Linked DNA regions of Homo sapiens. The protein of the gene in region 1 interacts with the protein of each later gene in a pairwise test. Each region holds a gene or a part of one and is shown on either strand. Other genes may lie near its edges.

Region 1 (8,532 bases):
CTTAAAATTCAGTTACAGCCTTCTTTGCTTTGAGGCTTGAGGTATATACGCAATAAAATTCCCGTCTTTTATTTCCTAGCTTTTTCTTTCAAAGGGACTTATGATAAACTTGGAGTAAGTAGTTGAGCAGTTAACTATCTGAGCAACCAGACTATGGTGGGGTGGTGGGGCGGCGGGGCCAGTCCCGAAATTCCCAGACATGTGGAAACTTCAGACTCATAAATGTAAAGAGATGGAGAAAGTTGCACTTACCAGAACTCCTCTCAGAAAGAGATTAGAATGTGGTTGGAAAGAATACCGTACTTTATTAATCCTTTTGGGAGGTGAGCTAAGACACATAATTTTGAATAACAAAAGATGATTATCAAACTGTCATTTTAAGGAGGGTGGATTCAGTTAATGTTAGTTAACTACTGTGCCATTCTGAATGGGGTTGAACCTCAAAGAGGTGAATTACTACTAAGCTTCTTCAGATAAAGATTAAACAACTAATACTAAGTAGAGGTTTGGAAGGGTGCCAGTTTATTAGCTGACTAGGGTTGTCCCTTCTTCATCTAAGAGTATAGCAGAATATTGGTGTAAGAATACACTCCTGGTGGGGCGTGGTGGCTCTCACCTGTAATCCCAACACTTTGGGAGGCTGAAGCAGGCGGATTGCCTGAGGTCAGGAGTTCGAGACTAGTCTGGCCAACATGGTGAAACCCCACCTCTACTAAAAATACAAACAAGTTAGCGAGACGTGGTGGTGTGCGCCTGTAATCCCAGCTACTTGGGAGGTTGAGGCAGGGGAATTGCTTGAACCAGGGAGGTGGAGGTTGCAGTGAGCCGAGATCATGCCACTGCACTCCAGTCTGGGCGGCAAAGCGAGGCTCCGTCTCAAAAAAAAAAAGAGGGAATACACACCTGTGTAGTAACAGACTGTTCCTGGAAGTGTCCTTATATTTGTAACCGCCCAAAGGGTTCACCTTGCCCACTGCCTAGACAGAGCTGATTTATCAAGATAGGGGAATTGCAGTAGAGAAAGAGTAATTCACGCAGAGCCGAGTGTGCACGTGACCAGAGTTTTATTTTACTCAAATCAGTCTCGCCAAGCATTCACGGATCCGAGTTTTTAAGAACAATTTAGTGGGTGGGAGGAAGCCAGTGAGCCAGGAGTGCTGATTGGTCAGGTCAGAGATGATATCATAGGGAATCAAAGCTGTCTTCTTGTGCTGAGTCACTTCCTGGGTGGGAGCCACAAGATCAGATGAGCCAATTTATCGATCTGGGTGTTGCCAGCTGATCCATCAAGTGCAGGGTCTGCAAAATATCTCAAGCAGTGATATTAGGAGCAGTTTAGTGGTGGTCAGAATCTTGTAGCCTTCAGCTGCATGACTCCTAAATGATAATTTCTAATCTTTTGGCTAATTTGTTAGTCCTACAAAGGCAATCTAGTCTCCAGGCAAGAAGGGGGTTTGTTTGGGAAATGGCTTTTATTGTCTTTGTTTTAGACTATAAACTATAAACTAAGTTCTCCCAAAGTTAGTTCAGCCTACACCCAGGAACGAACAATGACAGCTTAAAGGTTAGAACCAAGATGGAGTCGGTTAGATTAGATCTCTTTGACTGTCTCAGTCATAATTTTCCAAAGGCAGTTTCATATTCCTTACTGATGGGCCCTTCTTATGTTGCTTTATTGTTAGTGGAAGATGGAACTTCTGTAAAAACACTGGAAACACTCCAGCAAAGAGTGAAGCGTCAAGAGAACCTACTTAAGCGTTGTAAGGAAACAATTCAGTCACATAAGGAACAATGTACACTATTAACTAGTGAAAAAGAAGCTCTGCAAGAACAACTGGATGAAAGACTTCAAGAACTAGAAAAGATAAAGGTAAAAGAGCAGATGAGTTTTGTTCTAATTTAATCTATAAAGTTAGATCCACAGGCTCCACAGCATGGCTTGTACCTCCGGGAGAGGAGAGTGGATGGAAAGGGCATTTTTGTTTGCCCTGGCCTACATAACACCAAACCTTGAGACTTACTGTGTACTTTTTTCCTTCTGCACTGTAACATGTATATAAATTAGATAAATGTTTAGAGTTCTCAAATGAGAAGAAGCTTTATTAGAGATGGAAATGAATTTAAAAATTTTTTTTAGGACCTTCATATGGCCGAGAAGACTAAACTTATCACTCAGTTGCGTGATGCAAAGAACTTAATTGAACAGCTTGAACAAGATAAGGTAAAACAACAAAACCTATGATACTAAAATTTGTCAAGAGGCCCCAACATTTACTTTTGGAAACAGTTGGAAACATTCATGCTTGTTTCTGTTTTCTAAAAATTATTGCAGCTTTTTCCATGAAAAATCTTTAATTTCTAGATTTTTGTAACTACTAGCATTAGTTTTGTGTCATGTAAAACTGATTCTCTGATTTCTTGATCCCAGTCAGCATTATGATTTGTAGACTAGAATAACTGTTGCAAAGGAAGTTTATATTTATAGTACATAACTACTTTACAGAGAAAAGTTATTTATAGTTAAGGCATTATAAATGTGAATGATATCAGTATGTTCTTTCAGATAATATGGAAACAGATTAATCTCTCAGATAAGTTGCCTAACAAATAAATAAGGGGCTGGGCACAGTGGCTCATGCCTTTAATCTCAGCACTTTGGGAGGCTGAGGCGGGAGGATTGCTTGAAGCCAGAAGTTCAAGATCAACCTGGGCAGTAAAGCAAGACCTCCTCTCTACAAAAAAAAAAAAAAATTAGCTGGGTATGTTGGTATATGCCTGTGGTCCCAGCTACTCGGGAGGCTGAGGCAGGAGGATTGCTTGAGCCCAGGAGTTAGAGGCTACAGTGAGCTATGGTCACACTAGTGTACTGCAGCCTGGGTGACAGGGTGAGACCCTGTCTCTTAAAAAAACAACAAACAAAAATAAGTGATAATGTATATATTAGCATAAATAAAAATGTCTACAAATGAATTTTAGAATGTGTAGATGAGATTAGAGGATTGAGGAAGGAATGAGTCTTACCTTTGGTAGTTTGGAGTTGGAGCAGCAGCTAAAGCTACGCAGCAAAGACAACCAGAAAATTCATGGGTAAACAGTTTTGACCTGTCTTTCAGCTCCAAGTTCTTGGGTCCTTTTTCTAAGCAGCTCCCAGTTTGTTCCATAGCATCCACCATTTTCTTTAATATGCCGGGTTATCACTAGAGTATTTTAAGTGGTCACGTAATTAAGAACATGTCAGAGCTGTCCTGCTGTTAAAATGTATTGGCAATCTTTTTCATCCTTTTGATAATACTGCTTTGCTAGATTATACACTTCTTGAGGGCCTACTTAAATTGTTTTTTTTTTTAAATATTATAATGAAGAACTTAAAACATTTACAAAAGAAAAGCTGCTAAAATGAATTTCTTTGAACCCACCACCCCGCTTCAACAGTTAACATCTCATGACTAATCTTGTTTCATCTGTACCTTCTCAACTGTCATTGTCCTACTCACCCAGAATTGTTTTAGAGCAAATCCAAGAAATTTTATCATTTTTTTCCAAAAGTATTTTAATATATCTTTAAAATAAAAGACATTATTTTTACAATACTATAACCACATTATCATGATCACATCTAAAAATTTAATAATTTTAAAATATGACCTGCTATCTAGTCAGTTTCAGATTTTCTCTAGTTTCTCATATATTTTTTGCTCTTTTATGAATCAGGGTCCAAATAAAGTTTTTTCATTGCAATTGGTTGATATGACTCTTAAGATTTCTTTTAATTTACTGGTTTGATTATCTTCTCTCCTTCTCTTTCCACTATATTTTGGTTTTTGAAGAAACTGAAAGCCCATGATTTTGTTTTGAGATTTCATATAGCAGTGCCTCACTTACGTGGTTGTTATCTCTCTGTCTCTCCATTAATATTAGCCATCTGGAAGAGTCATATTCTAAAGCAAGGGTTGGCAAACCCTGTGGAGAGGGTGCTAATCTTAAGACCATGAAATTGTTGTCACAAAGTCTGAACATTTTTTCAAGAGACAAGTGAACCACCTCATTTTTTGTTAGTCCTAAATGACTTTTTTACTGTATACCATTTAGTTGTCTTTTTCCCCTGCCGACCTCCATTTCTAGTGTAGATTATCCAGAAAGAGGGAACAGAAGTAACTAGCAAGTTGGAGGAATGGAGATGCCTTACAAAGTAAGGAATAGTGGTGGTACCAGAGACAGTCACAGGAAGAAAGAGAAGAACCAGGTAGATGTGTCCTGGGATTTTGCTTTATCCAGTGTGGCAGCAGGCACCTTCCATTCTCAAGTGTCTGGGGTTATCCCCATGTTATAGTACAGATCAATACTTGTAGTTTATTGTAGTGCCAAGCCAGGTTCAGAAGACTATATTTTGTTCATTATAAACTGTTTACTAAGACAGATAGCACATTTGTAGAAAGGCTATAAAATAAATCTTTTAAGTAATAATGTTTTAATGCTTTAAGGATTAAACTATTAAAATTTTTAATGTAAAAAATACTGTTATGCTAGGTAATAGGATTAGAGCAGAAAACAGACCTCAGTTTGTGAAGTATTGAAATAATTGTTATGCTGTACTTAGCAAGAAATATCATTTTTTCTGCCTTTTATTTTTTGTTTTTTAATTTTTAATTTTTTTTTGAGACGGAGTCTCACTCTGTCACCCAGGCTGGAGTGCAATGGCGTGATCTCAGCTCACTTCAACCTCTGCCCCCTGGGTTCAAGCAATTCTCCTGCCTCAGCCTCCTGAGTAGCTGGGATTACAGGCATATACCACCATGCCTGGCTAATTTTTGTATTTTTAGTAGAGACAGGGTTTCGCCATGTTGGCCAGGCTGGTCTCGAACTCCTGATCTCAGGTGATCCACCCTCCTTGGCCTCCCAAAGTGCTGGGATTATGGACATGAGTCACCATGCACCATGCCCGGCCTTTTTCTGCCTTTTAAATTAAGTTTTATCTGTGCTGTTGATGATGCAGTTTTGTTATGCAAATGTTTTAGAGTCTTCACTTCTATTCAGGGAATGGTAATCGCAGAGACAAAACGTCAGATGCATGAAACCCTGGAAATGAAAGAAGAAGAAATTGCTCAACTCCGTAGTCGCATCAAACAGATGACTACCCAGGGAGAGGAATTACGGGAACAGAAAGAAAAGTCCGAAAGAGCTGGTAAGAACTTGAGGGTTACTTGTTTTATGTTGGAACTCAAAAGTTATTTAAAGTGCTTGACCAGTATTTTTAAAAATGAGTTAAATATTGATAAAAATTCTTAACTATAGAGGCTCCTAATAAGACACCCATCTGCTCATTAGAGGAGGCAGAGGTTGGCAAACTGTGGCCTGTGGGCCAGATCCAGCCCACAGCCTATTTATGTACAGCCCTTAGGCTAAGGATGATTTTTACATTTTTAAATACTTGAACAAAAGAAAAATATATGACAGAGACCATATGTGGTCTACAAAACCTAAAATATTTATCATCTGGCCCCTTACAGAAAATGTGTGCTGACAGAGTATCAAAATTCAGATTTAAAATTGTAGAACTTCCCAGTAGGTACAGCATGGTACTTATTAAATAATTGCTACCTTATAGATGCTTTAGGGTAAACAAAAAGTCTAAGTTATAGTCTGCTTTTAAAGAGAATAATGAACACTTCAGTGTTAATAGCATGTTTTGACACAATAAATGCTGGGCTATAAAGTATAGAAACCAGCATAGTATTCAACAAGGTACAAAATCGACTAAAGCTAGGAAAGGAGGGATGTTTGAAAGAGGAGAGAGCAGGATGAACTGTGCCTTCACATCAGTGAAGATGTGAGTTTTGAATTGGACCTCAAATAATCAATAGAATGGGCCTAACAAGAGAGGTGTGGGCAGCACACATTTCAGATGCTACAATGCCGTAAACAGGCACAGTGATCATAGTGGGTGTGTGAATCAGCTGAAAACCATTCTTGCTGAAGTGGGAAATGCAGTTGGATTGTAAAGGAACTGACTATTGAAATCTTAAAAGGTAGGTAGCTGAGTTTAGACTTTGATATACAGAGTAACAGGAAACCAGTAATAGGAAGGCATAATGTGATGGGAGCTAGGGTTTTATGTAGAAAAGAAATGAAATAGGAAGTCAAACTTAGAAGCAAAGACAGAAATCCAGTTTGAGGGACTGTGAGCTTTAGCCGCCTTGCTAGGATGGTGGTTCTGGGAAGGAGAAGAAAGGTAGAATCTGTAGAATTTGGTATCTGATCAACTCAGGGAGGCAGAAGAAAAGTAAGGACTCTAAATTGACTCCAAAGTTTTAAGCTTAGGACACTTAATGAATAGTAGTGTGGAATTAGAATAGGAAATCTAAATGGGGAAGTTGAGAATTGGAGTGAAATGATGGGTTTTTTAGATACACTGAATTTGACCCAGTCATGAGCTTTTCAAATGGAATTGAGTTGCAGGAATTTGGAAATAAGAAATTGGAACATCTTTCAGGAGTCATCAGCCTAGGATCGAAGCCTGTGGTTAAATCTGTAGGAGAGGCGGATTTCTACAAAAGATTAAGTTTTACAGTAGTAGTAATAGTCATAGTGGTAACAGCAGCAGCTGCTTCTGCTGACGCTTATTTAGCACTTGTTGCTGCTACTACTACTGCTGCTACTATTGTTAATACTACTGCTAGCCATTACTTACTTTAGTAATGCTCTGCTCTAAGGGCTTTGCTTGTATTTACTTGTATTGCATCCTCACAAGTGTATGAAATAATACTATTATCTTCATTTTACAAATAAGCAAACCTAAGAACATAGAAGTTAAGTAATTTACCTACATTTATGCACAGAGAATAAGTATATACTCAAGATTTAATCCAGGCATTGTGACTCAGAGTCTGTGCTCTTAACCATATAGAGGTCTTGAGTTTGGCAATGAGACATAAATGAGAAAAAAAAAGTTACCTCATGAAGTCATAGGAATTGTGGATAGTTTTTTGGGGGAATATAAGATATGTTTCAAGAAATGGAGAAGGTAAGATGAAGACTTTGAAAAGGTCCTTGAATTTGGCAAGGATTTGATTTGGAGGATGCAGTTTTGAGAAATGATTTTATAAACCAGATTTTAAGGTGTTAAGGAGGGGACTGGGTCTCTAGACAGAGAAATAGTTGACTATTTCATAAGTATCTCCCCATCTTCTTGGACTTATTTTATGGATAAAGTGACTGGGGAATTTAGTTAATGAATTTGTTCTCATCAAACCTAAGAAAACTTCCCTTTAGAGAGAGTAGATGGCATCTTTCAGAATATAATCTTTGAAGACTGACTTGAAGCAGTTTGAGTGTTGTAAGACATTGGTTCAACAGGTTTGCTTTCAGTGAACAGAAAATCTAATGCATAGCCTCAGCTTCTCATATCAAGCCTTTCCATTTTTAGAACTGCTTTCTGTTGACTGTTGTAGCCAGTAGAGAGAAAATGTTGGTCAGGGGATTACATTTCTTTTAAAATTCAGTGTACTTAATGAGGAGATAGAAACTGATTAATAAATATCAAGTTGAAAAGGGTAAATGATGAAAAGGTAGACAAAATATATAGTTCATTTACATGCGGATAAAATTTTCTGGTATATGTTCCAGTTAAACCTTTAGTAGAACAGCTTTCCTTCCCTTGCTTGCTTCTCCAAAACACAGGTATATTTTGTCTTTCAGTGTGATTTTCATAAACCATATTTTTTTAATATTTGATAGCGTAAAGGTTTAAAATTTTTTCTATTAATACTGTCAAAAATAAAAAATAAATACTAAAAGAATTAAGATTTAAATTATTATTACTTTTTTTGGGCACAATCTCGGCTCACTGCAACCTCCGCCTCCTGGGTCCAAGTGATTCTCGTGCCTCAGGCTCCTGAGTAGCTGGGTTTACAGATGTGTGCCACCACACTTGGCTAATTTTTGTATTTTTAATAGAGACCGGGTTTCACTGTGTTGGCCAGGCTGGTCTCGAACTCCCAACCTCAGGTAATCCACCCTCCTTGGCCTTTCAAAGTGCTGGGATGACAGGTGTGAGCCACTGCGCCCTGCCAGATTTAAATTATTAATGGATACATTTATTTTGGAAAGTCTTTAGATAACAAAGTTGTAAGTGCTTTTATAGATTTCTTAAAAATTATATTTGTAGTCATAATAATTGAGGGCTATGATGCAAAGTTGTAACAAACTGTCTCTACATTGAAGATAATGCCTTTTACATCTATAATGAAAGCTAGTTTTGCACACAAACTGTATTTCATTTAATAGTCTTAGTTGAGTCTAAACAGAACTGTTCAAGTAGGAAGTGATTCTTAGTTCAAATGTAAAGGTATATGCCAATTGAAAGAAAACTTCCAATTAAGTACTAAACATAAGAAAAGGTCAATGTAAAGGAAGTAGGATTTCTATAAATAGTCTGGCTATTGGAAAATTCAATTGCTCTATTAAATATTTGTTTTATTCTTTGTTAGATTTAAAATTCAAAGGCTAAATATAAGAACTGGCCATGTGAAGGAA
Region 2 (8,532 bases), about 71 Mb from region 1:
TATAACTAACCATTCTTTTTTTTCTAGTATTGCATTCACTGCATTTTGTCTTTATTTGTAATTTGTCACTTTATGCTCATATTTATCTAGAATTACTGAACTAAAATTTGAACTGTAGAAAAAATTCTCAATGAGTGAAAAAGATCCATGATTTTTTTTCCTTATTTTTCTGTGTGAAACTTTTAAGTTAAAGTACATTTTTTAAAATGCTGTTTAAGCTTGATTTTGACACTTGTATCACAATTTGACATTTGGTGGTAAATTCTAAAATGACTATTCTGTTACTCCATGTTACTGTTTTCTGCTTGATGCTAATTATTTCCCCTGGACGGACGATCAGTAGTGCCATTTTTTGGTGATGTGTATTCGTGGATAAAGAAATGCTGATAGAGTTGTCATGATTTTAGCTCAGTTGTTTTACCTTATGTTTTAAAAATAAAGCCTTCATAATTGCTTTAATAATGGTTATAAGAAAAGACAAGTATATCAACACAAATTCATTCATTTAAAAAGAAACCTTTTAGTTTCACTGCTTAACTTCTATATACTGATTTTCTAGGTCTTCCTTGTGTTTACTTTTTCATAGACCAACTAATTCTGAGTTGCTGGAAGTCCCAATTTTAAAATATTTCATTAATACTTTTTTACTATGAGCAAAGAGCCACTGTATCTCAACCAGATCTCTTAAATGTATCTAGTCAGGTTTCCTTGTATCTCAGAGCAACAAGAATATGTTCTACTCTGTCCTAGAGCAAACTCCACCCCTGTTTAATATCCTCTTCTAAGGTACTGCTCCTTAATTTTCTTCCTTTAAAGCAGTGACTTTCAACCCTGATTTCCTACCTAAAATCACCTGGAGAACATGTAAAAAAAAAAAGAAAATCGATGCCAGAACCTTACTTCAAGAGTTTCTAATTTAATTGGAGTGATGTGAAACCCTGAAATCATTAGGTGGTGTGTGTTTGCATGTTGGCTTTTTTGTTTGTGATTGTTTAAACTACCTGGTTGATTCTAACATGCAGCTAAAGTTGAGAACCACTGCAGTAGGGATACATGATTGCTTGACCTTGGAGATATTTATAATTAATAAAGTGGGGCCTTCTCATTGAATTGGACCACAACTTTTAAAATAATAGCTATTTACATTAATTTATAATATACAAATATGACAAAACAACTTACCCTTATTCAATAAATATTTATTGAACCATTGAGATTCTTGCTAACAAAAAACAGACATCCAATGGAAAGATATCCTCGCTGTTTTAACCATTGAGTCAGAAACCTTTGGTGCCAGTCCATCTCTTACCACTTGCTAGTCATTTAAATTGTGTGAGTTTCAGTTTCCTTGTTTGTCATTGAGCTAATTTAACAATAATTATACTGGATGACAGTGATGATATAATTTGTATGAAATCATCCTGAATGTTATCTTTTACACATAAAGTGAGAATTTTTTTGTTGTATATCTTAACAAAACTTAACCTCTCTGTGGAGATGATACACTAAAAATGCATATTGCAAAAATCTTGACAACTGTCAAGTGTACCACTCTTATAGAACAACAATTTACATATGGCAAGATTGACCTGGGATTTGGAACAAAGGTTGCAGATTCTGAATTATGGTGAGTATATAAACTCTAATGACAAAATGGCAAGGCAGTAAAAAATCGAAAGATGTGGTGATTCTCATCCTTTTGGAGGACCATCCTTTGGTTATAACTTAAGATATAACAGATTAACAAACATATTTTCATAATGAATTTTTTGTAAATTCATTCAATTTGTAGATTGTGTGCTTTTTGAAGAAAGGTATTAACATTTGTTGTTTTTTATTGTTTAGGTTTGTTTTGTCTTGTTTTAACTTACTATAATTATCTAAGGGTTCTGAACATTTCTGGAGCTCCTTTTTGACATTGCCTCAGTAATCAATTTTACTTTTTTAAATGAAAAGCATGAAAAAACAGAAGAGTAGTTTTATTACAAGGAAATCAGTCACTGCTAAAGGCTTTTTAATAACAGACAACTCTCCTTCCTTGGCAGGTCAGGAATTATGGTTAAAGGTGGATTTTCACTGATGGTAATAAGATATTACTTTATACCCCTTCCCTCCTCATGAATTAAGTCCATCTAATCTTTACTGAGGACCTGCTGAGTGGTAGACACTATGATTTGTTTCTGTTTCCACAGATGTCACAATTGTCAGTAATTGTGGACCTTTAGAGTAAGAATTATCTGTTTTTATATTTGTATACTACTTTCAGGTACAAAACTCAGAACATGACCTAGTGTAATTCATTCATTACGTATTAGATATTCTATATTGCCTAAGGTTACCGTCTGTTGTTGATATTCTAGTGACAAAGCTAAGAATTAAATGAACTGTGTTTCGAAACTACTACTTACTTGAAACAGAAAGTTGAAGCAGGTTGGTAGTAAAAGAAACACTGTCTAAACTAAGGCTATTAATGCCAGTTTGTTCTCTTTGGATCTTGAGTTATAAGAATGTTGATTGAGATTTTTACTTCTCAATAGAAACAGGACTTTATCATCTTGAATTTAAAAAACACAAGTGTTGGTTTTTTTCATTTTCTTTAGAATTTTGGACAGAAACAAGCTCTAAGAAATTTTTCAGTTATCTAATTTAAATGTGATTTATCTTTAAAGCAAACTTGCTGCTGATGTAATTTTGAAAACTCTTGATTTGATTAACAAACTTAAACCATTGGTTCCTGGTATGGAAGTAAGCTTCTACAAAATACTTCAGGTGAGTTTAAACTCTTCAAACATTGAAGTTTATTCATACATAAATGGTCCTAATATAAGTTTCTGTTTTAATATTCTTAATCTTTAGAAGATAATTCTCTTAGAATTGGCAATGAGAAGAAAGTTTAAAGTTGTTGTCTTAAGCAGTTATAATAGTCTCACTGCACAGTTATTTTATATACTTTCACAGGAATTGAACATAAGTGCTCATGACACTAATGTAGAGAATGTTCACAATAGTGCTGCTTCCTCAGCCTTTTCCTTTCTTGTGTTGTATTTGTATATTTCTTCATTTGTTTCTGTTGGCATTGGAGGAAGAGTGATATTTGTTTTAGGGTTTTTGTTTTTGGTTAGGGTTGATGTAGGGTATTAAGGGGATAGGGAGACAGCTGGAAGAAAAGGATTGTGATAATTAGAAGGGCTGTGCAGAAAATAGCTAACTCACAAATTTCAATGATAATAGTAGCTGAATATGATCTCTAGCTGTTATCAAAAGGCAAAGTACAACAAATTTAGTTCAAAGTTCTAACTGGCTTTTATTTATGATTCTAGAATTTGGCAGCCTCATTCTATAAAATAGAATGAATCATTCCCCTGGGCTAAGCAGAGAAGGTTGACTTTATAGACCAGAAAAGGGCTGAAGAAAGCACAAATAGGGAACTAAAAGCAGATTGGTCATTTCAAAGTTACTTTTCCTATAGAATTATAATAAAGGGGGCTTCCTTATTATACTAACTCAGGTTGACTGAAATCTCCTGGTTTTTTGGAAAACTGGCCCATTTCAAAGTGCAGTTTGATTACATGGCACTCATCCAAGTGACTCCTTTCTGGTTTGATCTGGTCTGCTAAAGCATAGTGGAGGAGACTACTCCAAAATATTAGCCTCTTAAAAACTTTGTGTAATAATATCTACAACACCTACCTTTACAACAGATGTTTAACAAAAATGAGTGAATTAAATTACTGCAGTAGCTTAACAGAGACATCTCTAGTGACTGTATAGACAGTGTAGAAGCCAAAACTGAAACCTTAGGCAGGGACCACTGGCATGTTTTGAGATTAAGGGACTGAGTTCAAATGTTGACTCTACTGGTTCTTAGTACAGGCTTGAGTAAGTTATTTCACCTCTCTCGACTTCAATTTCCTCGACTACAAACTGGAAATAATGAGGCTTACCATTGAGGGTTTTGGAGATAAAGCTCTGCTCTTATCACAGTTCTGTGACACTGGATTATACTCAAGTACCTACAAGGTACTCAATATTTTAATTATAAGGGATTTATATTTTAATATTTTCTTCACTAATATCTCAATGTATTTTTAAAGGAGTCAAACTGATGTTATGTCCATTATTTAAGATGTTTTTCATAATACAGGTTGAGCATCCCTAATTTGAAAATCTGAAATCTGAAATGCTCCAAAAAACAAAACGTTTTAAGTACCAAAATGAGGCTCAAAGGTGATACTCAAAGGAAGTGCTCACTGAAGCATTTTGGGTTTTTGGATTAGGGATGCCCAACCAGTAAGTACATGTAAATATTCTAAAATCTGAAAAAAATCAGAAATTTGAAACACTTCTGGTCCCAGACATTTTAGATATATGTTGATGACTTGGGGCTTACAATACTAATGTAAAATATTTACTGACATAAATGATTGAAGTAACTGTATTTTTTCGATCTTTAAATTTAAATGTTCTAATTTAATTTGAATTTTACTTTTTATTTTATAGCCTTAATTTGGAAGTGATTGGCCATTTTTTTCTTTTAAATGATAGCTTGGAAAAAAACATTAATTCTACACATCAGTCAGTTGTGGGTTTTTTAATCCACGAAAATATATAAGGCATAATTTTTATAGGCACATTTGAAAGCATTCAAAACCTTTGCCAGATTTTTTTAAACTGTTCATATTGATTGCATTGCAGTGTAAACAGCTATAACAAGGTATAATATATTCAAACTATATAGACTATAATATATTCAAACATTAGAAACATTTTAGAATTTGCCTAGAATTAAGATTTACATATATTTACTCACCTCCTATCTAAAAGAGCTGACATTGTTTATTCTTTCTGCTGCTTCTTTTTTGGTTTCTGATTTATTTAGGACCCACGTTTGATTACTCCTTTGGCTTTTGCTTTAACGTCAGATAATAGAGAACAAGTACAGTCTGGACTGAGAATATTATTGGAGGCTGCTCCACTGCCAGATTTTCCTGCTTTAGTGTGAGTTGTAATCATTTGCAGTGTATCTCTTGTGGTGTTGGAATACCCTGCTATGTCTCTTTAGTCCTCAGTATAGATACACAAGCAAATTAGTGAATTGAAGACTTCATTGTAATAGTAATTTTTCAAGTGATTTCTAAAAATGTTTGATTCTTATAAATGAAAAGTTCAGATGTATACTCACTCAGGGAAAAGCTAGATCCAGGCAGTTAAATGTTCTTCAGGTACTATCCCTCTATGTCTCTAGCCACTTCTTTTTAATGATAACTTCTGGACACTCTTAAGCCTACATCCTCCCAGTTTAGTTCCTCCATAGAAAGAGCTTTTCCTTCCTGACTGTTTAAGGAAAAGGTCTAAGCATTAGTCATTGACCAGGCCTGGGTTATCCATGAGAACGATGTGGACTAAAAGTTAGTTGGGATAGGAGAATAGGAGAGTTCCTAAAGAAAAAAATCTGAACTTTTATCAGAAAGTGGAAAAATGACAACCAGGCAAAATTTTCTACTATACTCGTTACTTTCAAGCAATAAGAATATTTGCAATTATGTTTGAAAAAAAATTCAGATTTCAGGGCTCTCTGAACTAAATGTCTATTAGGAGTCTGGTTTAAAATTTTTTTAAGTCATTTATATGTATGAATTTGTAAAAATGGTTTGAATAATTTGAAGTAGTTGATAAACAGGTAAGATATTCCCTGTATACCGGGATCAGCAAACTGGCCAGTGGACAGGCATCTGTTTTTGTAAATAGTTTTATTGGAATATGGCCACACCCACTCATTTTTATACTCTGTCTATGTTGCTTTCACTCTATAAAAGCAGAATTGAGTAATTGTGACAGAGACCAGATAGGTCCTTGAGTCTAAAATACTTACTATCTTGACCTATAAGAAAAAGTGCTGGTCCATGCTATATGCTATTCACTGATTTAGCGATTCCACTTTTCAGAATTAGCAATTTAGGTCATCATACCTTAAGAGTTAAAGTATGGGATGTAAGACCTAGAGAACATATAACCAAAATTCCCTTAATTTTATAATAAATATTTTTTTAACAGCAACAACAAAAATACACAGGAAGCTTTTCAAGTTACAAGTTAAAAGTGGTCTGTAAAGCTGCTCTATTTTGTGATGGCCTGCTTGCATAAACTGGTAATCTGACATGAAACAAAACCTTAAGAGCTTCAAAGGGGAATCTGCAGCCTCACTGAACATGGAAGTCTTATCCTCTGCCTCTGTGTGTGAGGCCTTCCCACCATTTTGACTGTGTCTTGGCATTCCCTGTCTTATTTGTGTTGTAAATAATTTTCTCTTTGGGCATTATCTCAGATGTCCATTTTATGCTTACTATTTAATGCCCTTATTTGACATTATCTTGGGCGTTTAATAAACTGAATGTATATTATGGATGCATTGGTAGGTAGGGTTTTTGTGTGTGTGTATTTACTTGTTTGTTTTCGAGACAGGGTCTCACTCTATCACCCAGACTGGGGTGCAGTGGTGTGATCATGACTCACTGCAGCTTCGACCTCTGGGGCTCAAGTGATATTCCCAACTCAACCCCCTGAGTAGCGGGGACCACAGGCTTGTGCCACCACAACTGCTTAATTAATTTATTTTTTTATAGAGGGGTCTCACCAGGTTGCCCAGGCTTGTCTCGAACTCTTGGACTCAAGTGATCCTCCCAAAGTGCTGCGGTTACAGGTGTGAGCCACCATGCCCAGCCTATAATAAATTAGGCTGAGTGCCTGCCATCTTGCAGTTTGCACTTTAGTTAAGAGATAAGTGAAAAAAATATTTTGTTTTGTGGTAGAAAGCGTGTTCCAGATAAAGGAACAGCTCATATGAAGGCCTGAGGTAGGAGAAAGAGAGGATTTTAAAGGGTTAGAATGGAAGTCAGGTTGGTGAAAAGTATGTACTGAGTGAGAAAGGAAAAGGACTAAGGACGTAAAGGCCAGGTGATATCACCCATGATAAGAACATTATTCTGACCAGTACCAATAACTTTGTACTTATTACAGATAATCCACACTCATAAACTAGTCTTACAATGCCTCCAAACCAGAGGTGAAGCTGTCATTATAAAAGGTTAGAAACAGAAAAGTGGGTGCTCTGGAAAATTCAGAATATTTCCCAAGACTTCATTTCATCATGGTCTCCAAGATTATTTGAAGACTTCTATTCAAAAAAAGGACCCATTCTTAAAAATTCCCTAATTCTGCACTAAGTCTGCCTTTTCTTCTATTTTCGTATAATTTTTTTTTCCTTTCTTTGACTCCCATTCAGACTTGGAGAAAGTATAGCAGCAAACAATGCCTATAGACAACAGGAAACAGAACATATACCCAGAAAAATGCCCTGGCAATCATCAAATCACAGTTTTCCAACATCAATAAAGTGTTTAACTCCTCATTTGAAAGATGGTGTTCCTGGATTGAATATTGAAGAATTAATAGAGAAACTTCAGTCTGGAATGGTGGTGAGTGAAAAAATAGCAATTATAACCTGGTACATATTAGCTATATGTCAGTCCCAATTATAACGTGTATCTAAACACTGTCAGGTACAGATTTCACTATTGAAACCTTAATATAAGAAATAACAATATTCTGGAAAATTTGGAAATAAGAAAAATCAGTCAAAATTTCAACATTTTGCCGGGTGCGGTGGCTTACGCCTGTAATCCCAGCATTTTGGGAGGCCAAGGAGGGTAGATTGCCAGAGCTGAGGAGTTCAAGACCAGCTTGGGCAATATGGCGAAACCCCGTCTCTATTAAAAATACAAAAAATTAGCTGGACGTGTTGGCTCATGCCTGTTGTCTCAGCTACTCTGAAGGCTGAGGCAGGAGAATCACTTGAACCCAGGAGGCAGAGGTTGCAGTGAGCCAAGATCATACCACTTCACTCCAACCTGGGTGACAGTGAGACCCATCTCAAAAAAAAAAAAGAAATATTTGTGACTTACCTGATGTAGCATTTGTTTTTATTTTGTTACTCATCATTAAGTTTTAATGATTTAGTTTTGAAGTAGGCATTTATTTTGTCATTGTGTCAAAATATTTTATTAAAATTTTAAGTTTTTTTACTCTTAAAATGTAGGTAAAGGATCAGATTTGTGATGTGAGAATATCTGACATAATGGATGTATATGAAATGAAACTATCCACATTAGCTGTGAGTATAAGCTTATTTTAACAATGTGTAATAAGCTTTAATAGATGTATTCCTAAAATGAAAATTAATGATATGTTTTCTTGTAGTCCAAAGAAAGCAGGCTACAAGATCTTTTGGAAACAAAAGCTCTAGCCCTTGCACAGGCTGATAGACTGATTGCTCAGCATCGCTGTCAAAGAACTCAAGCTGAAACAGAGGTGTGTAGAATATAAAGACACATCTGATTTGTAGAAAAATTAATAAGTAAAACATGCAAAATATTAGTTATGTATTTGTTACTCTAATTGAAGTAAATTCTCCTTAGCATTTGACATGCCTCCTTCCTTCTTCCTGAAATTCTGTCCTCTTTAATTTTGGTTACA
Region 3 (8,532 bases), on another chromosome or scaffold:
TTGAAGCAATGGTTTTCTTTCATCAGTTCCCCATACTTGATATTTAGTTGAAGGTCACTCATCAGCTTGTCAGTGGAATGCTGTGGCATTGACACTGTTCTCTGAGAACATTTGGTAGTACGTGGATTTACTCCTGAGGCAAAGGATAGAAACCCAAAAACCTTTTTGTAGCATAGAGGCTTTGCTTTATATTCTTAGAAAGTAGTGGTGGTTCATGCCTGTAATCCCAGCACTTTGGGAGGCCAAGGCAGGTGGATCATTTGAGGTCAGAAGTTCGAGACAAGCCTGGCCAACATGGTAAAAACCCATCTCTACTAAAAATAAAATTAAAAATAGCCAGGCATATGGTGGCGTATGCCTGTAGTCCCAGCTACTCGAGAGCCTGAGGCATAAGAATCACTTGAACCTGGGAGGCAGAGGTTGCAGTGAGCCAAGATTGCACCCCTGCACTTCAGCCTGGGCAACAGAGCGAGACTGTCTTAAAAAAATAGTAGACCGGGTGTGGTGGCTCATGCTTGTAATCCCAGCACTTTGGGAGGCCAAGGCGGGCGGATCACAAGGTCAGGAGATCGAGACCATCCTGGCTAACACGGTAAAACCCCGTCTCTACTAAAAATACAAAAAATTAGCCGGGCGTGGTGGCAGGCGCCTGTAGTCCCAGCTACTCAGGAGGCTGAGGCAGGAGAATGGTGTGAACCCGGGAGGCGGAGCTTGCAGTGAGCCGAGATCGTGCCACTGCACTCCAGCCTGGGTGACAGAGCGAGACTCTGTCTCAAAAAAAAAAAAAAAAAAGTAATAAAAAATAAAAAAGGAAAGTAAGTAGATGGTTATACTCAAGTTTGGGTTATTCAGAAATTACCCAGGATGGAGGAAGAAAAAGGTGTTCAAATTCCTAGGTTCTGAGAGTATTTATCTTCAGGTCACGAGCATGAAAGGAAGTTTCAAAGTAAGTGACCCTTTCATAAGATTTAAACCTTCTTGTCCTTTTTCATCTAGAAACTATTAGTTTTTATTGTCTTTTTCTTCAGATGATAGAAGATGTTTTGGGAGAAGGGTCAGTCTCTGCCAGTCGGTTCAGTAGGTGGTTCTCTAACCCGAGCAGATCAGGAAGCCGATCCAGCAGTCTTGGGTCAACACCACATGAAGAGCTAGAGAGACTTGCAGGTAAAATGGCTTCAGATTCTGCCCTTGAAGGTAAACCTGGGTTTTTCCCTGATATGGTTCATTTTATCTTCATTAGTCAGGAGTCAATTAGGGTCAAAGGGTCTCTGGACAACTGAAAAGCCTTCAATTTGTGTCCTTTTAATATTGTTGAAGGGGCCGGGTGCAGTGGCTCACGCCTGTAATCCCAGCACTTTGGGAGGCCAAGGCAGGCAGATCACAAGGTTAGGAGTTTGAGACCAGCCTGGCCAACATGGTGAAACCCCCATCTCTACTAAAAATACAAAAATCAGCCAGGCGTGGTGGCGGGCATCTGTAGTCCCAGCTACTCAGGAGGCTGAGGCAGGAGAATCGCTTGAAACTGGCAGGCGGAGGTTGCAGTGAGCCGAGATTGCGCCACTGCACTCCAGCCTGGGCGAAAAAGCGAAACTCCATCTCAAAGAAAAAAAAAAAAAAAAAGAAAGAAAGAAAAATACTGTCGAAGGCATGTTTCTTTACTGGAACAGATTAATTTTGAGTATGTTTATTTGCAATATCAGGTCTGGAGCAAGCCATCCTCTCTCCTGGACAGAACTCGGGGAATTACTTTGCTCCTATACCATTGGAAGACCATGCTGAAAATAAAGTGGATATTTTAGAAATGCTACAGAAAGCCAAAGTGGATTTGAAACCTCTTCTTTCCAGCCTTTCTGCAAATAAAGAAAAACTTAAAGAAAGCTGTAAGTGTTTATGAATATCTGTTTTAGATATCTGAAAAGGTCTAGATGTTCAGTCTTCAGGCAGTTGGGTCTAACATAACCTCTGTTTCATAAAAAGTCAAATATATATTGGGTTTTTGTTTAATGTTCTTTTTTAAAAACTCATTTCATCAAACAATACCACCTCTTTGAGAATCTCACAGTGGGTCATGAGCCCTATGAGAACTTTTCCTGTAAGTTCTTACCTAGGGTCTGGTTGTAATAATCCAGTGAATGTTGAAAACAAACTCCAGTGAATGTTTTATTCCTCCAGAGCATAACTTACCATTTCCTCACAAATCTGCCCTAGTCTTCCATGTTCTTGCTTAGGCTATAAATTCTCAACATAAAAACTTAGTGATATAATGACCACGGTGCAGGCAGCAATCTTGGCAATGTTGGGCTATCTGGGATTCTTGTCCCAGGTAACAAGTCTCCCAGAAGACTCATATCCTTCTGCAGGATGCACAGCAGGAGCTTGTCAAGTTTTAAAGAATAGCACTTCATAGTTGTGGTCCCCCAGTTTCTAGCATCTAAACATTTTAGGTTTAGTTTATGCCATCTCTTAGTACACAATTTGATTTTAAGTGTTATTAGTTTATTTTTGGTGTCAGTCTTTTCTGACAGTCTCATCTCAATTTTGAAATAAATTATTTTCATCTTATCTGTCATACTAGCCAAAGAGAATTCCTACCAGATATCTCTTTGCTTGATTTAACCTGGACGTTCTCAACTTCTCAGCACATTCAGGGGTTGTGCTTTCAGTGGAGGAGGTAGAAGCAGGTCTGAAGGGCTTGAAGGTTGACCAGCAAGTGAAGAATTCAACTCCCTTCATGGCAGAACACCTAGAAGAGACCTTGAGTGCCGTAACCAACAATCGACAACTGAAGAAAGACGGAGACATGACTGCGTTCAACAAGCTAGTGAGCACAATGAAGGCAAGTGGGACTTTGCCTTCTCAGCCCAAAGTCAGCGTAAGTATCTGACACAAACCCCCCACCCTTTTCTCCTTTTTTTTTCTTCTTTTTCCCACCACAATAAAAGGATTTTTAAAAAGGTATTCTGAGTAAGTTGGAAATTCTTTAGTAGTCATTTGGTCCTTGATGCTTTTGTGTGTTCCTTAATTATTGATATGCTATTTGTTACTGGAAAAAGCAGGCTTGTGGTTAATTTATATGTATTGTGGGTGACAGTATAAAGATTAAAAGATTCAGTCTTAATGGTAATGCCTGTATAACTTTAAGTCACTGCTAAAATGAGGTATAAAACTATCTTTTTGGATGAACTCCAGAGACAATTTTCTTGTTATTCAGCTACTTAAGTTCATATTCTTTACCATATTTGTATAGTAAAATCTTTATTCACATCTTCTAATTATTCCCAGATACCAGGGATTACCTGCATTCTTGCAGTCATACAAATCATTTGTAAAGTATCTAAGATGGGGCTGAGCACAGTGGCTCACGCGTGTAATCCCAGCACTTTGGGAGGCTGAGGCAGGCAGATCACCTGAAGTCAGGAGTTTGAGACCAGCCTGGCCAACATGGTGAAACGCCATCTCTACTAAAAATAAAAATTAGCCAGGCGTGGGGGCATGCGCCTGTAATCTCAGCTACTTGGGAGGCCAAGACAAGAGAACTGCTTGAACCTGGGAAATGAAAGTTGCAGTGAGCCGAGGTCACGCCACTGCACTCCAGGCTGGGCAACAGAGTGAGACTGTCTCCAAAAAAAAAAAAAAAAAGTAAGATGGGTTTGTCAGGATAATTACATTCTGTCAATTTACTAATGGAAAAAGTTGTGGCTCCAAGTTAAAAACAAAACTTGTAGGCATGAAGTTAGGTTACAAGGTGACACAACTGCATATCACCTTGTAAATGCAAATGTTTATAATATACTGGTTCTTTGTCCTAACAATTTTGAGAGGGTAGTTCTTACCCATAGCCTATGTGTTAATATCACTATCTCTTGATACAAACTAATGTGGAAGCAGGGTAGATATGAATAATAAAAACATAAACATGGACTTATTCTAGTTGCTAAGTTATAGCAAATTTACCAAATTGAGTTTTCTCTCTTTTTTTCCTGTTCCCTGCTTGCCTGGGAACTTACCAGTTAGCCAAGATGCAAGTAGCAATAGCTGTTTGAATCATTATGTCTTATACCAAAAGAAAGCAACTGACTTTTAGCATTCCTTATCTGACCAATAGGACAGACAGAGGTTCCATTATTCCTTAGTGCCAGGACTGACCTACACTTGAAAGGAGGCACCTCAGATAGGTAGACTGACTTCTTTGTATCTGACCACACCATACCAGTTGCAGGAGAATGTCCCTGTAAAACTGCTTTAGAGTTACTTTTATACAAAGAATTATTAGATACAAATGCTTTCAAATGAAGATCAGACTGAAAGATGGTAGACTATCCTATTTTCCTTTCTCGTTACATTTGTGTCTTGGTGATTGGGTGCTGACTGCAATGGTGTGGTTCATATCTTATAATTAGCTTCTTTCTTTTGGTGTGAGCAACTAAAAATATGGAAGGGGGCATTCAGCAGTTTACCTGATGTTTTTCCACATTTTATTGCAGATATGATTCTAGGATTTGATATTAACACAATTTACTCGAGTTGTAAGGGCAGTTGGTTTGATGTTGGGGTTTTAGCACTCAGAAGTGTATCTGGTTTTAGCTGAGCAAATGAGCCTCAAACACCTGCCAAACGGATGGATGACACATTCAAGTGGCTAGGCAAAGGCTAAGACAAACTCAGCTAGCAGGAAAGAATACAACAAGGAAAGTAATGGAGTAAGAATAGCAGGTGTTATCTCAAAATATTGCTCAATTTGCATGTTGTTAAGTCATGGTTTACTTTTTGAATTCGGTGTCTTTAATTACTACTGCTGTGTATGTTTTGTATACTATTTCTGATCTGCCTCCATCCATTTAGGTTGTCATATTGGTTCATCCAAAAATAATACATGCTGGTTCAATCTAAATTCTGTTTTAAATTATAGATTCTATCCTCCAAGTATAATAAGCCATGCAGTATAAAGTTGTCTATTTGTTTTTATTAGATGGAAGTAAATGACTCTTAAAGAGATTACTTATAAAATCATCTGCCTTTAGTCCCAGTTCCAAAATCAACAATAAAATACTTGGGTATTCTTGAGCTATTTGTCATGCCTAGACACTGCTTTGGACTTTGACAGCTCCATCTAGTGGAAGGGAAACTACACCAGAGAAAGCACTTCACACAGAGCTAAATGGGCATAGGGATGTCCTGAAATGCAGGAGGGGACTCCAGGTTGGATGCACAAAATGTAACCACTGGCCAGGCCTGGTGGTGTACACCTATAGTTCGAGCTACGTGGGAGGCCAAGGTGGGAGGGTTGCTTGAACCCAGAAGTTCAAGGCCAGCCTGGAGAACATAGACCTGTCCCAAAAAAAAAAAAAAAAGTAACCACTACTGCTTTAAGAGTGGAGGATTTGAATTTTGCCCTGTATGTGATACCCATTTTGGAACAGCTCGTTTAAAAAATAATAAAGTTGCCGGGTGCGGTGGCTCATGCCTGTAATCCCAGTACTTTGGGAGGCCGAGGCGGGCAGATCACGAGGTCAGGAGATCGAGACCATCCTGGCCAACATGGTGAAACCCCGTCTCTACTGAAAAAAAAAAAAAATTAGCTGGGCGTGGTGGCATGTGCCTGTAGTCCCAGTTACTCAGGAGGCTGAGGCAGGAGAATTGCTTGAACCCTGGAGGCAGAGGTTGCAGTGAGCCAAGATCGTGCCATTGCACTCTAGCCTGGTGACAGAGCAAGACTCTGTCTCAAAAAATAAAATAATAAAGCTTAAATTTCCTGAAATATGAAACTCTGAAATATAACAATTTTGGCCAAACCTGCATGTTGTTTACTAGGATTTTAAAACCATATGTGTAGGCAGGGTGTGGTGGGTCACGTCTATAATTTAGCCAGCACTTTGGGAGGCCAAGGCCAGAGGATTGCTTGAGCCCAGGAGTTCAAGACCAGCCTGGGCAACGTGGCAAAACCCCATCTCTACAAAAAATATAAAAATTAGTTGGGTGTGGTGGCATACACCTGTAGTCCCAGCTACTCAGGAGGCTGAGATGAGAGGATCGCTTGTGTCTGAGAGGTCAAGGCTGCAGCAAGCCATGATTGCACCACTGCACTCCAGACTGGGCAACAGAACAAGACCCTGTCTCTTTTGTGTGTGTGTGTGTGTGTGTGTGTGTGTGTGTGTGTGTGTGTGTGTGTGTAGTATATATATATGTGTGTATGTATGTGTGTATATGTATGTGTATGTATATGTGTATATGTGTGTGTATATATGTATGTATATATGTATGTGTGTATATATGAGTGTGTGTGTGTGTGTGTGTGTCTCCAATAAATCTTGTTAAAGGTAATGGGTAGCAAGAGTTATCTCAAGTAAGTGTTCCCCGGTTTCACCATTTTTCCCCCTTTTGGTCACAGTGTTAGAAACAGGGAAATGGACTTAGGATTAGCATAGTGAGGATCTCTGAGGGGACTTTGCATGTACATGTGAACGGTCTTTCCATCCCCAGATCTTTGAGACCTGTGTGATGAGAGCGGAACACGTTGGTCTAAGTTTTCTGTGACTTGAGTATCATTCTGCTATTAACTCCCTAGGAGTATTTTATGCTTTCTTGTGGTCCCCAATCAATCTGTAAGTTAAGTGAGTTAAGAAAGTTAAAACCAGTTTTCTTTTGACTCTTTTAGCGAAACCTTGAAAGCCATTTGATGTCCCCTGCTGAGATTCCAGGCCAGCCTGTCCCTAAGAACATCCTGCAGGTACTTCACAATCTTATACTGAGGCCTTGGAGTCTTGAACAGTAGTCTTCTGAACCAGTTTTGCTTAGTGGTCCAACTTTGGGCCTTAGAAAATGATCTGTGTTGCCTGGCAATCAGAGAGGTGATATTGTTGCCTGACATAGTTTGGTGTTGCTTTTAATCTCAATGGGCAGGGGATAGGGGATGGCTAAAAAAGTTGACAAAGTAAGCCTTGACTTCTAGTTTCCTTTGCAGTTTCTGTGAAACTTAAAAGTATCTAGCCAGGCACGGTGGCTCACACCTGTAATCTCAGCACTTTGGGAGGCTGAGGTGGGTGGATCACCTGAGGTCAGGAGTTTGAGACCAGCCTGGCCAACATGGTGAAACCTTGACTCTACTAAAAATACAAAAATTGGCCTGGTGTGGTGGCACATGCCTGTAATCCCAACTCCTTAGGAGGCTGAGGCGTGAGAATCGCTTGAACCCGGTAGGCAGAGGTTGTGGTGAGCCGAGATCATGTCACTGCACTCCAGCCTGGGTGATAGAGTGAGACTCTGTCTCAAAAAAAAAAAAAAGGAACCTCTATTTATAGCACTAACTTAGAGCATATGTTGCTAGCTGAACATTCAGATAAATGTGTTGCATGTACACATGCCAAGTCCTTCAGTTGAGCATGAGGGAGATCCATCTTGTGGCTCTCAAAAGTTAATCCATAATTCACAGCCTCTGAGTAGAAGGAATAACTAAGTTCACAGGGATTTGGCTTTTCTGCCTTTAGGAACTTCTGGGTCAACCAGTTCAGAGACCTGCTTCTTCCAATCTTCTGAGTGGCCTTATGGGGAGCTTGGAGCCTACAACATCTTTACTGGGCCAAAGAGCACCCTCTCCTCCCTTGTCACAGGTGTTTCAAACTCGAGCAGCCTCAGCTGACTACCTTCGCCCAAGAATACCATCACCAATTGGTAAATATACTTATTTGTCAAAAGAAATATGAATTTATGGCCAGGCACGGTAGCTCATGCCTGTAATTCCAGCACTCTGGGAGGCCGAGGTGGGCAGATCACCTGAGGTCAGAAGTTTGAGACCAGCCTGGCCAACGTGGTGAAACCCCATCTCTACTAAAAATACAAAAATAGCCAGACGTGGTGGTGCATGCCTGTAATCCCAGCTACGCAGGAGGCTGAGACAGGAGAATCGCTTGAATCTGAGAGGCGGAGGTTGCAGTGAGCCAAGATCACGCCACTGTACTCCAGCCTGGGCGACAGAGCGAGACTCTGTCTCAAAAAAATAAATAAATATACTTTTGGGGGATGGGGTACCAAACGTGGAAGATACCAGCTGCTCTTCTAGGTGAATATGTTCATGTTATAGATTTTTTTTTTATTGAAATCTAACTTTGATCTAGCTCTTTAGTCTTATTCCTTATTTTGGGAATTCAATCCAAAAAAAGTTAATTTGGCTTCTTAAGTTTTTCTTTGATATAGTAGAAGTCAGTGTAGTGGTTATCTATGAAGCTATTGAGTTTTGATAGACAATCTGCTGTTAAGTCTTATGGCTAATTCAGAATGTGACTGAAAGAAAAGTTCCAGAAAGTGTCTTAGCAAAGTATTTACATGGAATGTCGTAGTGTTCCTGCTATCCTAGGCCACTTTAGGCTGCTGGCCACTCTGGCTCCTGCCAAACAAACCTTGAGAGGCATTTTTTGAAATCTTCTGTCCACAGTCAAACAATGGAGAGAATGTGTATTCTCAGAGCAATGGTGTCTATTTTAATACCAGCTGGCTTAGTGATAACGGGACAAACTGCTGGCTAGGAAAGCTCTTCTC
Region 4 (7,346 bases), on another chromosome or scaffold:
TTATTCTGAATTTACAATTTCTTCATTCTACTGACAAGAATACTGAGGCCTGGAGAGATTGAGTGATTTGCTCAAGGCCACAGAATCTGTTTATGTCACATTTGGGACTAAAAACCAAGGTTCTTATCTTCAATTTAGACTTTGTTAATTAGCTCAGATCTGAGTAGGTGGCAGTACAGTGGGGAGTGGGCAATTCAAACCAAAGACAAACAGAGAGGTCACAACAAATATTGTTTTGTTCTGCTATGTGCTAAGTTTGTTGTTGTTATTGTTCTGTTTTGTTTTGAGATGGAGTCTCGCTCTGTTGCCCAGGCTGGAGTGAGTGCAGTGGTATGATCTTGGCTCACACCAACTTCTGGCTCCCAGGCTCAAGCAATTCTCCTCCCTCAGTTTCCCAAGAAGCTGAGATTACAGGCGTGTGCCACCATGCCTGGCTGACTTTTGTATTTTTTAGTAGAGACAAGGTTTCACCATGTTGGCCAGGCTGGTCTTGAACTCCTGACCTCAAGTGGTCTCCCAAGGTGCAGGATTACAGGCATGAGGCACCGTGCCCAGCCAGTTTTTGAAATTAGGCATTTTATTAGGAAAAGCCGTATAAATGGTTATGTGGGTTTGCAGTAGAATTTACTTTCAAGTCAGCTCCACCAGGAATAGTTTAAAGATCTCATAGGCATCTGTAAAGAATAACAAACGTTGCCTATATTTACAGCCATACAGTCTTATTTTTAAGGTTTGATCTATGCAAATACAGTATTATATATACTTCATGTAATGTGTAACATGTAGATTATAAAGTATATGAATAACTTTTCAAAGGAACACAAACTCTTCACAGGACAGTCTCTGGTTTCAGTGCAATACAGTTTGGATCTGAGTGGATGATGAATTATAAGCCATAATAATCTGACACTGTGTCAAGAGCAAATTTGTGTATATATATATATGTACATATATATTTATGTGTTTGCCTATATATGTGTATATATGTGCATGTGTGTATATATGTATGGGGTATATATATATAGTATGTATATATAAGTGTGTATATATAGGTGTGTGTATATGTATATGTATGTATATGTATGTATGCATATATATGTATATGTGTATATATAGGTGTATGTATATATGTATGTGTATCTGTATATATATAGGTGTAGGTATATATGTATGTGTGTCTGTATATATACATGTGGGTATATATGTGTGTGTGTGTGCGCGCGTGTGTGTATATATATATATATATATATTTATGCATGTGTAAATTGAAAAGTAAGCAGTCCAAATTTTCCCTTTTACAGACAGACACCAAACCAGTGCAGATGATGAACATGGAGGCCACGTTCTGTATGGGAAACATTGACAGTATCAATTGTAAGATCATAGAGCTTCCTTTTCAAAATAAGCATCTCAGCATGTTCATCCTACTACCCAAGGATGTGGAGGATGAGTCCACAGGCTTGGAGAAGGTAAGGAGAAGGCAGGTGCTCTCCACAAAGGCACCCCCTGCCTTGGCAAAGAGTTGTGCCAACAGGTCTGTGTGGGCCGTGAGAGCTGGGCCGGTAGCCCTCCCTTATTGCCACTGGCTCAGTCACCTCCAAGGACCCATGGTTCTTTCTGGGGCCTTTCCTCCTTAATATTAACAACAGCCAAAATTTATTTGGCACTTACAGTGTTCTAGGGACTGTGCTAAGTTGCCTACGTGCATTATCTCATTTAATTCTTACAGCAGGCTGATGAGTTAGAGACTGTTACCACACTCTTGTTTACCAGTGAGGGAGCTGAGGCACAGAGGGGTGGGTAACTGGTTACATAATTAGTCAAGGGTGTGTGCAGGATCAGGATTTGGGCCCAGGTAGTTGGAGCCAGGTTCTTAACTGAAGGCTAGAGTGTCTCCCTCACCTCCTAGGCAGTTAAGGCACTACGTTGCTACGCACTGCCAGGTCCACTATCATGTGACCTGATGTCAAGCATCCTCTCTCTTGCTCTTTCTTTTTTTTTAAAATTAGTAGATGTTATTTTTAGAGTAGATCTATGCCTACAGAAAAATAAGCAGAAAGTACAAGGAGTTCCCATATACTCCCCTTCCCGTCCCAGGCCTACAGTTTCACCTGTTATTAGCATCTTGCATTAGTTTGGTATGTTTGTTACAATTGATGAGCCAATACTGACATATTACTATTATTATTATTATTATTATTATTATTGTTTTAGAGACAGGGTCTTGCTCCATTGCCCAGGCTGGAGTGCAGTGGCATGATGGTAGCTCACTCTAACCTCAAACTCCTGGGCAGGCTGGAGTGCAGTGGCATGATGGTAGCTCACTCTAACCTCAAACTCCTGGGCTCAAGTGATCCTCCTGCCTCAGCCTCCCAAGTAGCTGGGACTAAAGGCACACAGCACTATGCCTGGCTTTTTTTTTTTTTGTAAAGGTGGGATCTCACTGTGTTGTCCAGGCTGGTCTTGAAATCCTGGCCTCAAGCAATCCTCAGCCTCAGCCTCCTGAAGTGCTAGGATTATAGGCATGAGCCACCACACCTGGCCTTCACAATTTACGTTACGGTTCACTCTTTGTGTTGTACATTTATGAGATTTTAATACGTACACATATATGCTTCAAAATTTTGAATTATGCAGATACTATTTTATAGTACACATTATATATAAGTATTTTATTTTATATGATAAGGGTTATTATATTATTTTATTTATATAGATTTTTAAGGCACAAAGTTTAAATAAGAGTAGCAGTTTTCTCTGCAGGTGAATGGAGTTTTAGCTTCCTCTCTGCTCCCTCACCTCTGCTTAGCTGGCTGAGGCCTGTTCTCCCTTTAGTCCCTCCCTGGCTTCCATTCTAGCTCCACCCCGCCTGGCCTCAACCCTTGGCCAGGAAGGAAGAAGGGGCTCTTTGAAGGCCTGGATCACTTGCTATATATCCACATGGGCCTCAGTGATTTGCTGACTTTCCAGGGGACCATCCAGTCTCCAGCTTGCTCCTTTGGTTGCCATTATGTTTTAGCCACCACTTTATTAACTGAATTATAATTCCTGTCCTTCTTCTTCTTTGGTGCATTACTCTCTCTGTTTTTTTTCTTTCCATTTTATGCTTTGATCTTTCAGCCATTATCCAGCTGTCTTGGATTTTACCTTTCGTTCTTAAAACGCCCTCCAATAAACATCAATTATTTTCTTCTTCTTCTTCTTTTTTTATTTCAATAATTTATTTTTCTTTTTTTTAATTATACATTAAGTTTTAGGGTACATGTGCACAATGTGCAGGTTTGTTACATGTATATACATGTGCCATGTTGGTGTGCTGCACCCATTAAGTTGTCATTTATATTAGGTATATCTCCCAATGCTATCCCTCCCCCCTCCCCCCACCCCACAACAGGCCCTGGTGTGTGGTGTTCCCCTTCCTGTTTCCAGGTGTTCTCATGGTTCAATTCCCACCTATGAGTGAGAACATGCAGTGTTTGGTTTGTTGTCCTTGTGATAGTTTGCTGATAATGATGGTTTCCAGCTTCATCCGTGTCCCTACAAAGGACACGAACTCATCATTTTTTATGGCTGCATAGTATTCCATGGTGTATATGGGCCACGTTTTCTTAATCCAGTCTATCATTATTGGACATTTGGGTTGGTTCCAAGTCTTTGCTATTGTGAATAGTGTTCCAATAAGCATACGTGTGCATGTGTCTTTATAGCAGCATGATTTATAATCCTTTGAGTATACACCCACTAATGGGATGGCTGGGTTAAATGGTATTTCTAGTTCTAGATCCTTGAGGAACTGCCACACTGACTTCCACAGTGGTTGAACTTGTTTACGGTCCCACCAACAGTGTAAAAGTGTTCCTATTTCTCCATATCCTTTCCAGCACCTCTTGTTTCCTGACTTTTTAATGATCGCCATTCTAACTGGTGTGAGATGGTATCTCATTGTGGTTTTGATTTGCATTTCTCTGATGGCCAGTGATGATGAGCATTTTTTCATGTGTCTGTTGGCTGCATAAATGTCTTCTTTTGAGAAGTGTCTGTTCACATCCTTTGCCCACTTGTTGATGGGGTTGTTTGATTTTTTCTTGTAAATTTGTTTGAGTTCTTTGTAGATTCTGGATATTAGCCCTTTGTCAGATGAGTAGATTGCAAAAATTTTCTCCCATTCTGTAGGTTGCCTGTTCACTCTGATGGTAGTTTCTTTTGCTGTGCAGAAGCTCTTTAGTTTAATTAGATCCCATTTGTCAATTTTGGCTTTCAATTATTTTCTTCTTAAAGTATAGAACTAAAGAAAATGACCTTTTGAGTTTTGGAAATGATTTTTTTTTTTTTTTTGAGATGGAGTCTTGCTCTGTCCCCCAGGCTGGAGTGCAGTGGCATGATCTCAGCTCACTGCAAGCTCCGCCTCCTGGGTTCATGCCATTCTCCTTCCTCAGCCTCCCGAGTAGCTGGGACTACAGGTGCCTGCCACGACGCTTGGCTAATTTTTTGTATTTTTAGTAGAGACGGGCTTTCACTGTGTTAGCCAGGATGGTCTCGATCTCCTGACCTCGTGATCCACCCACCTCGGCTTCCCAAAGTGCTGGGATTGCAGGCGTGAGCCACTGCGCCCAGCCGCATCTCTCTCATTTTTTAAAACAGCTAAAATGGATGCATTCACTACCTATGACCCTAGGGCATGGCTCAGAGTTAGTTCAAATTCCCATTAAAAAAAAAAAGTAACTTTAGCTTTAATTTAATTTTCTAAATCTGATGCCATTCCTAGTACATGAATATTCTGGATTTCCTCGTAGAGAAATTACAATAAGCATTCAAGAAATATGTGTAAAAAGCTTTCTAATTTTATATTCATTTCACTATTGTGTATGCAACATCATGATCCAGGCATTTGTTTCTATAAATCTACTCTCTAACTTAAGGTTGGGTGCGGTGGCTCACACCTTTAATCCCAGCACTTTGGGAGGCTGAGGCTGGCACATCACTTGAAGCCAGGAGTTTGAGACCAGCTTGGCCAACATGATGAAACCCTGTCTCTACTACAAATACAAAAGAAAATTTAGCTGGGCATGGTGGAGTGTGCCTGTAATCCCAGCTACTCGAGAGGCTGAGGCACGAGAATTGCTTGAACCCAGGAGGCAGAGGTTGCAATGAGCGACGATCACACTATTACACTCCAGCCCGGGTGACAGAACAAGATTGTCTAAAAAAAACCCAAACAAACAAACAAACAAACAAAAAACTACTCTCTAACTTAAAATGAAAAAACAGAACCCTGTCCTCATAAATTTCAGTGCACATGGAACACTGTTATAGGCTGGGGAGGAGGAGGACACAGCTGGGTGGCTGCTGGGTCTCCTGAGTCACATACCAAAAACTTCTGGGCCATCTTTGATGTTCCACCCAGACTGCTTTGAAGCTGGGCTTATCATAACACCTTATGTTTTCAATTGAGCCAGGTCTTTTACAGTTGGAAATAAATAAAAATAATTTCTTTTCATTTTTGTCCTTCAGATTGAAAAACAACTCAACTCAGAGTCACTGTCACAGTGGACTAATCCCAGCACCATGGCCAATGCCAAGGTCAAACTCTCCATTCCAAAATTTAAGGTGGAAAAGATGATTGATCCCAAGGCTTGTCTGGAAAATCTAGGGCTGAAACATATCTTCAGTGAAGACACATCTGATTTCTCTGGAATGTCAGAGACCAAGGGAGTGGCCCTATCAAATGTTATCCACAAAGTGTGCTTAGAAATAACTGAAGATGGTGGGGATTCCATAGAGGTGCCAGGAGCACGGATCCTGCAGCACAAGGATGAATTGAATGCTGACCATCCCTTTATTTACATCATCAGGCACAACAAAACTCGAAACATTATTTTCTTTGGCAAATTCTGTTCTCCTTAAGTGGCATAGCCCATGTTAAGTCCTCCCTGACTTTTCTGTGGATGCCGATTTCTGTAAACTCTGCATCCAGAGATTCATTTTCTAGATACAATAAATTGCTAATGTTGCTGGATCAGGAAGCCGCCAGTACTTGTCATATGTAGCCTTCACACAGATAGACCTTTTTTTTTTTTCCAATTCTATCTTTTGTTTCCTTTTTTCCCATAAGACAATGACATACGCTTTTAATGAAAAGGAATCACGTTAGAGGAAAAATATTTATTCATTATTTGTCAAATTGTCCGGGGTAGTTGGCAGAAATACAGTCTTCCACAAAGAAAATTCCTATAAGGAAGATTTGGAAGCTCTTCTTCCCAGCACTATGCTTTCCTTCTTTGGGATAGAGAATGTTCCAGACATTCTCGCTTCCCTGAAAGACTGAAGAAAGTGTAGTGCATGGGACCCACGAAACTGCCCTGGCTCCAGTGAAACTTGGGCACATGCTCAGGCTACTATAGGTCCAGAAGTCCTTATGTTAAGCCCTGGCAGGCAGGTGTTTATTAAAATTCTGAATTTTGGGGATTTTCAAAAGATAATATTTTACATACACTGTATGTTATAGAACTTCATGGATCAGATCTGGGGCAGCACCCTATAAATCAACACCTTAATATGCTGCAACAAAATGTAGAATATTCAGACAAAATGGATACATAAAGACTAAGTAGCCCATAAGGGGTCAAAATTTGCTGCCAAATGCGTATGCCACCAACTTACAAAAACACTTCGTTCGCAGAGCTTTTCAGATTGTGGAATGTTGGATAAGGAATTATAGACCTCTAGTAGCTGAAATGCAAGACCCCAAGAGGAAGTTCAGATCTTAATATAAATTCACTTTCATTTTTGATAGCTGTCCCATCTGGTCATTTGGTTGGCACTAGACTGGTGGCAGGGGCTTCTAGCTGACTTGCACAGGGATTCTCACAATAGCCGATATCAGAATTTGTGTTGAAGGAACTTGTCTCTTCATCTAATATGATAGCGGGAAAAGGAGAGGAAACTACTGCCTTTAGAAAATATAAGTAAAGTGATTAAAGTGCTCACGTTACCTTGACACATAGTTTTTCAGTCTATGGGTTTAGTTACTTTAGATGGCAAGCATGTAACTTATATTAATAGTAATTTGTAAAGTTGGTTGGATAAGCTATCCGTGTTGCAGGTTCATGGATTACTTCTCTATAAAAAATATGTATTTACCAAAAATTTTGTGACATTCCTTCTCCCATCTCTTCCTTGACCTGCATTGTAAATAGGTTCTTCTTGTTCTGAGATTCAATATTGAATTTTTCCTATGCTATTGACAATAAAATATTATTGAACTACATGTCTTGTTTTTTTTTTCCTATTAAGTTAGACTATTTTGAAATAGAACCAAGCCGTGCGTTTACAAAAGCATCCCTGAA

Evidence for each region.
Region 2: the proteins of GOLGA4 (region 1) and CIP2A interact in a two-hybrid assay, tested with the Homo sapiens proteins (one study listed by BioGRID).
Region 3: the proteins of GOLGA4 (region 1) and EIF4ENIF1 interact in a two-hybrid assay, tested with the Homo sapiens proteins (one large-scale study listed by BioGRID).
Region 4: the proteins of GOLGA4 (region 1) and SERPINB5 interact in a two-hybrid assay, tested with the Homo sapiens proteins (one large-scale study listed by BioGRID).

What each region holds. Positions count from the first base shown.
Region 1 is NC_000003.12:37,297,151-37,305,682, forward strand, and holds part of GOLGA4 (golgin subfamily A member 4), read left to right. Parts: intron 1-1,682; coding exon 1,683-1,870; intron 1,871-2,137; coding exon 2,138-2,221; intron 2,222-5,034; coding exon 5,035-5,182; intron 5,183-8,532. UniProt on the Homo sapiens protein: Involved in vesicular trafficking at the Golgi apparatus level. May play a role in delivery of transport vesicles containing GPI-linked proteins from the trans-Golgi network through its interaction with MACF1. Involved in endosome-to-Golgi trafficking.
Region 2 is NC_000003.12:108,559,592-108,568,123, reverse strand, and holds part of CIP2A (protein CIP2A), read left to right. Parts: intron 1-1,485; coding exon 1,486-1,627; intron 1,628-2,669; coding exon 2,670-2,769; intron 2,770-4,879; coding exon 4,880-4,998; intron 4,999-7,282; coding exon 7,283-7,475; intron 7,476-8,095; coding exon 8,096-8,170; intron 8,171-8,256; coding exon 8,257-8,367; intron 8,368-8,532.
Region 3 is NC_000022.11:31,448,484-31,457,015, reverse strand, and holds part of EIF4ENIF1 (eukaryotic translation initiation factor 4E transporter), read left to right. Parts: intron 1-1,028; coding exon 1,029-1,164; intron 1,165-1,700; coding exon 1,701-1,880; intron 1,881-2,639; coding exon 2,640-2,872; intron 2,873-6,655; coding exon 6,656-6,727; intron 6,728-7,484; coding exon 7,485-7,668; intron 7,669-8,532. UniProt on the Homo sapiens protein: EIF4E-binding protein that regulates translation and stability of mRNAs in processing bodies (P-bodies). Plays a key role in P-bodies to coordinate the storage of translationally inactive mRNAs in the cytoplasm and prevent their degradation.
Region 4 is NC_000018.10:63,497,819-63,505,164, forward strand, and holds the end of SERPINB5 (serpin B5), read left to right. Parts: intron 1-1,301; coding exon 1,302-1,469; intron 1,470-5,511; coding exon 5,512-5,904; 3' UTR 5,905-7,267; downstream 7,268-7,346. UniProt on the Homo sapiens protein: Tumor suppressor. It blocks the growth, invasion, and metastatic properties of mammary tumors.